2 separate regions of the Homo sapiens genome follow, and region 1 is linked to region 2. The links come from fine-mapping of genetic effects on gene expression. A gene starts in region 2. The other region holds a variant in brackets. All regions are shown on one strand. Distances are between the middles of the regions. Region 1 holds the start of SAPCD2 (suppressor APC domain containing 2). Region 2 holds the start of DPP7 (dipeptidyl peptidase 7).

What was found. PIP is the estimated chance that this variant, and not a neighbour inherited with it, causes the effect.
Region 1: its variant is fine-mapped to the expression of DPP7 in whole blood (INTERVAL, PIP above 0.99).

What each region holds. Positions count from the first base shown.
Region 1 is chr9:137,069,210-137,072,096 of GRCh38, forward strand. It overlaps SAPCD2 (suppressor APC domain containing 2), which reads right to left and starts at 1,348. Exons shown (of 6, transcript NM_178448.4): 1 at 681-1,348. The coding sequence starts at 1,251. RefSeq lists silencers at 676-725, 776-825, 996-1,405 and an enhancer at 1,510-2,489. The variant T/TG (reference allele first, on the strand shown) is at 1,722.
Region 2 is chr9:137,113,514-137,116,400 of GRCh38, forward strand. DPP7 (dipeptidyl peptidase 7) reads right to left here and starts at 1,220. Exons shown (of 13, transcript NM_013379.3): 1 at 1,134-1,220; 2 at 950-1,063; 3 at 730-869; 4 at 352-515. The coding sequence starts at 1,200. LOC124902314 (a long non-coding RNA gene) reads left to right here and starts at 1,286. Exons shown (of 2, transcript XR_007061874.1): 1 at 1,286-2,887. RefSeq lists silencers at 916-1,065, 1,096-1,445.

The sequences.
Region 1 (2,887 bases), 44 kb before region 2:
TCTCCCATCACTGCCAACTGGACCGGAAGGCAGGAGAGGAGTGTGCCAGCCATCCCCAGGGACTACGGCCTATGTCCCTCCATGGCATCTGCCATAGTACAGCCCCACTGGGGTGCAGGAGATCCACCCACGCCCCTGCCCATCTTGGCAACAGGGCCAGGTCCTCTTGGGCCACCAGCAGCAGCCCCCGCCTGCCTAGGCCTCAGTGGGGTCAGTGGGCCCAGCCCCCCTGGCTAAGCTGTCACACTGAGAAGGGGGACCCTTTCTTTGAGAAGGAAGCACTTCTGCCTGAGCAGCCACAGACAGGAGGCTGAGGGCCCAGGTGTCCCCAGGTGCGGAAAGGGTATTGGAGATGGAGAGCCCAAGCTCAGGCTTGGTACAGGTTGGGCTCCCGGTGGGTTTTCTGAGTCACCTGCCACCCCCCGGCCCTGGTGGCCTTATGCTGTGGCAGGAGAGGGTCTGGCTTGCCTCCCTAAGCAAGCCCCTGGGCTCACCGCGACAAGCATGAAGCCCTTTCCCTCCAGACCCGCCGAGGCGCCCTCCAGGATCCGGAGTCCACGAAGAGCCGCTCCCCGGTCCCGTCCCTTGTGGGAAATGCACGGGCAGCAGCTGTGGGACTGCGGTTTCTGGCCCGGGCCCGGGAGAGCTACGAGGGTGCCCGGGGGCCGTCCGGAACTCACCTGCGTCCGCGCTGGAGCTCGGTTCCAGCGCCGCGCTCTGGGACCGCTCGGGCTCCGCGGGGCAGGGCGCCGCCTCAGCCGGGGCGCACAGCTGCTCCGGGCTGCGGGCGGCGGCGCTGGGACCGGCCAGAGGGGCGCGCACGCCCAGGGGCAGGGGCTTCCTCTCCAGGACCGTCCGCGGCTCGTCGGCCGGAGCGAACACCAGGCGCTGCGGCGGCGGCGGCGGCTGATCCCCGGGCCGGGCCGGGGCGCGCGTGGGGTCCCGGGGGCCGCCGTCGGCGCTCAGCAGGGAGGTGCGCAGGCCGGCCACGAAGCGCTCGAAGGTCAGGTAGCCGCTGGCCGGGGCCACCTGGCGCAAGCCCTCCAGCACCCCGCGGGGCAGCTCCCGCGCGTCGGTGCCCTGCCAGCGGGACTCGATCTCGCGCAGGTGCACGCAGCCGCGCCGCCGGTCGTCCAGGATGTCGAACAGGGTGCGCAGGCTCTGCAGGAAGGCGCGCGGCAGCCCCTCCGTGCTGGGCGCGGGTGCGGGGGGAGGCACGCGGCCCCGCTCGGCCATGGCGGCCCCGGCCATGGGCGCCCGGGATCGGTCCCCTCGTCCACCCGCGTGCGTCCCAGCGCGGCCCCACGGAGGGGCCGGCCCGGCGAGCTCAGCCCACGGCGACAATAGCGACTACTTTTGAATGGGGCCCTCCTCGCGGCGTCAGCCCTCATTAACATGCGCCGCGGCCATTGGCCGAGCCCGTCCCATCTGCTCTCTGATAGGCTGAGAGGAGGTTTGATTTTTTTTTTTTTTTTCTTGCCGAGTGGCCCTGGGAGGCGCGCGGAGGCCCTGGGCAGGCGGAACCGGATCCCCCAGCTCCTGCTCCACTCTGGCCTCGCAGACCTTCCTTTCTGCCCCGCCCCAGCCCCACCAAACCTCCTGCCGCGGCCAGGCGCTTTCTCGGATCCAGCTGTGGCTGGCTGCCCCGGCCACCTCTCCAAGGGGCGGGGCCTGGCACCCTACAAAAAAACCTGTCTCCAGGTAGCCTCGTGGGGTAAGAA[T/TG]GGGGGGGGGCACCCCCTCCAAAGATCCCACTTTTCCCCTCTAGTTCCCTGGCCGCAAGCACAGGTGACCCTGCGGCCCCCTTCTCTTCCACCAGGAGGGCCCCAAGAGGATCGTAGGCTCCAGCCAGCTGGGCGCTTCCCACTCACAGAGGCCTTTCTGTCCCCACTGCTGCTGGCTCCTCCTCTGGTCCCTCGGGACAGTCTGGCCTGGCCTGCCTGCTGCAGAACAAAGCCACTTTCTCCTGTGTCCCCAGATCCCCATCTAGTGACCAGCTCCCTCTGCCTCTTGCTCTCCTCTCCTCCTTCCCCTGGCTGGACACCTCCTCCAGCTGCTCTCCTGGCTCCCGCAGCCCTGTCCCCCTGCCTCTGCTGTGTTTCCAGCTGGGATCTGGTCACTCTGTCTTCATTTGGTCTGTCCACATGGGAGGTGAGACCAGGCCTTAGCCTGGGTTCTAGCCCTGGGAGCCCATCTCAGGGCTGGCCAGTAGTACCCTCTAGGTTCCAGGGAGGTGTTCAGGGTGCAAACACCCTCCCCAGACAGGCCCCCAATCCGAGACTTGCCTTGGCCCTCTGCGGGTCTCCCACCCTCCCTCCTGGGCAGGCCTCAGCTGGCATACCTACCTGGGTCTCTGTCCTCAGGCCTGAGCCACTGGTGCCTGTGTCTCAAGCTGTAGAGGCATCTTCCCAGGCCAGGGAGTATCCTGGGTCCACTTCTCTTCTGGGTCACTCACTCTAAGTGGGACTCCTTCATCGTAGGGAATGCTGGAAGGACATAAGAAGCTCTGAGCCTGGAGCAGCCCATCAGAGCTTGGTCCTGTAAGCCAGCTTCCCCTTTAATGGCTGGTCTGCTCAAAAACCCAGCACGAGGCCGAGGCGGGAGGATCACTTGAGCTGGGGAGTTCAAGACCAGCCTGGGCAACATAAGGCAACCCTATTTCTACAAAAAGTTTAAAAAATTAGCCAGGCGTGGTGGTGCATGCCTGTGGTCCCAGGTATTTGGGAGGCTGAGGTGGGAGGATCCCTTGAACCCAAGAGGTTGAGGCTGCAGTGAGCTGTGATTGAGCCACTGCTCTCCATCCTGGGTGACAGAGCGAGATCTTGTCTCAAAAACAAAACAAAACAAAACAAACCAGCACAACACGCAAGCCCCCGCCCCCCCATCCCCA
Region 2 (2,887 bases):
GGTTAGGGCTGCTGCCCCCAACACCCCATTTCCTCTTTTCCTCCTCAGGGGCCCACAGGTGCCACAAGGAGGACGACACTTCTGAGACCCACAAATTCCAACCCTGGGCCAGGTGCGGGTGCAGCTCTCACTGGGAAAGGCCGCTAGTGTGGCCGCACATCCAAGCTGAGCAGGTGGCTGGGAGGACAGGTGGGAGGGCTTCCTGGGGGAGGCAACACTAAGCCTGGAACCACTGCCTGAGGCCTTACGAAAAGGCAGCGGTGGGAGTCAGAGGGGAGTGGGGAGAAGGGCTGGGGGCGCTGGGTCGGGGCAGGGGAGGGAGGGGGTGCGGAGGCCGGGGGAGGCGCCCACCTTCCACCGAAGGCGATGGCGGGGGCATCCTGGGCCCCGAGGTCGCGTCGTAGCGCGCGGAGCAGCTCTGCGAAGTCGGCCAGGGCCTGCTCCACCGTCAGCAGCTCCGTGTGCCCGCGCTGCGTGGACTGCGCACCGAACGGCAGCGACTTCCCGTAGTAGCGCTGGGGGAACGTGCCATTGAGCCCGGCCCCGCGACCCCGCCCGGCACCCGCGTGCCCCGCGACCCCCGCCCGCGACCCCGCCCGGCACCCGCGTGCCCCGCGACCCCCGCCCGCGACCCCGCCCGGCACCCGCGTGCCCCGCGACCCCCGCCCGCGACCCCGCCCGGCACCCACGTGCCCCGCGACCCCGCCCGCGACCCCGCCCGGCACCCACGTGCTCCGCGAAGACCAGTAGAGCCCCCCGCTCGGCCGCCAGCTCCGCGACGAAGGCCGAGTTGTTGGCGAAGGCCCACACGTCGCCCTCGTTCCCAGTGTAGAAGAAGATGGGCCCCTCGCCCCGGACCCAGAACCTGTCTGTGGGGAGGGCGGATGAGGCGAGGGTGCCGGGGGGCGGCGGGACGGCGGGGGCGGCCGGGCCGGGGCCGGGGTCTCACCCGACACCAGGAAGCGCTGAGGGAAGGTCTTGTTGCCGAAGCGCTCGAAGTTGAAGTGGTCCAGACGCTGCTGGAAGAAGCGCTCCTGGAAGCCGGGGTCCGGGGCCCTGCGGGCTGTGGGGGGACGCGAACCTCAGAGGCGGGGCCGGGACCGGGGAATGGGCCGGGGGGCGCCGCCACTCACCCCCCGCCTGGAGGCCGCGCAGCCCGAGCGCCAGCAGCAGGACCGGGGCCCAGGGAGCGGAGCCCATGTCGCCTTCCGCGGGCGCCCGTCACGTGGGCGGGGTCACGGGGCCGCCAGGGCGCGCTCCTCCCTCCAGGCCCCACGTGTTTCGGGCGCCCGCGGTCCCCACGGAGACCGTCGCTGCTTCAGCGCCGCGCCGGGGCTGTGCCCCCCAACACCCCGCGCCCCGCGGCCGCTGCCCAGGGGTCCTTCCCGGGCACGGCGCGGGGAAGCAGAGGGCCCCCGGGCCATCTCCGCGGCCTCCCGCCCCACTGGCTCGTCCTCCTACCGCGGCCCCATCCGGAGCTGCGCTAGGGCGAGTCCCTGCTGCGCCCGCCAAGCCTCCCCAGCACTTGCTCCTGGCAGGTGCCCCACTCCAAGGCAGGGCCGGGAGAGTGGGGGCCGTTCTGCTGCCCTAAGGGCGGGAGGGAGAGGGTCCCAAACAGAGTGCTGGCCCCCCGAAGAAAGCAACCCAGGGTTTGTCCAAGCGATAACGGGCTGGGCTTGGCGGGGCGGGGCCTCGCAGCGGGCAGGAGTGTGGGGTGCCCCTGGAGCGTCTGGGCAGGGCCGGGATGTGGCCGGGTAGCTCCCAAGAGCTGGGAATCGCCACCTGCCCTTCCGACTGGCACCCAGTGTGCCCACACAGCCCTGCAGGGACAAGGGGGGACCAGAGGCCTCTGCTGGGAGCTGGGGCCTCCTCCCTGGGGAGCACCCAGAGGATGGAAGAAGTCACCTTTCCCCAGCGTCCAGTTCAGGGAGTGGGTGAGGGGGCCGTAGTGGTGGGTGCCAGACTAGCTACGTGGAGTCCTGCTGGGGATGTACATGGGCCGCTAGCCAGGCCCAGAACAGGTGCAGGGGCAGCAGGGGCTCAGCTACAGAGAGTTACCCTGTCCTTCTCCCAAGACTACCCTCGGCCAGCATGACCCTGCCCTGCCCATCCTGTGTGGGGCTGAGCGGAGAAGACCGGCCACTTCCACAGCCCCTCACGCCATGGCCCTCCCGTGCCTCACACAGAGGCACCCCCCATGGTGGGTGACTGGTGGCTGGGGCCCTCAGCATGGTGGCAGTGACCATCACGTCACACTGCAACACGAGGTCATCCAGGGCCACACACCGTCCCCACCACGGCCCTCACATCTGGGCCCTGTCCCATCCCTACGCAGTTCCTGGGGCTGCCTGCCGGGGCCCCCGCAGGACGGGGGTGAGGACAAACAGCAGACCTCCTTGGATGTGGAGGTACCCCACGGCGTCCCCCACCCCACACCTCTGCTCCTTTGGCTCCCTCGGGTGCCTTAGGTGGCCAGAACTCCACCAGCAACCCTCACCCAGGACCGCAGCTCTGGAGACGCCAGCTAGGCCGAGAGCTGGCCAGCTCCCCAAGCACACCAGAGCCTGGAGACGCTCCAGGCTTGGCTGGGCCCACAGAGGGGCCAGAGCCTCAGGGAGGGCTCCAGGAGCAGGGTTTCCAAGGAAGCCACTTTCCCTCTTGTCCACGGCCCAGGCATTGATGCCCCTCTGGGCAGCAGCCAGGGCCTCCCAAGCCGGGAAGGGTGGGCATGGGGCTACCCAGCATGGCTCTGCCAGGGGTGAGGGTGGCCACAGTCCCCTGCCCACATCCCTGTGCCCACAGAAACATATGCTGTATGGAATCAAGGTTTAAGGCATCTAGGCCTGTGCTGGTAACCTGTAACCTTAGCCCCATCCCTGTGCCCACA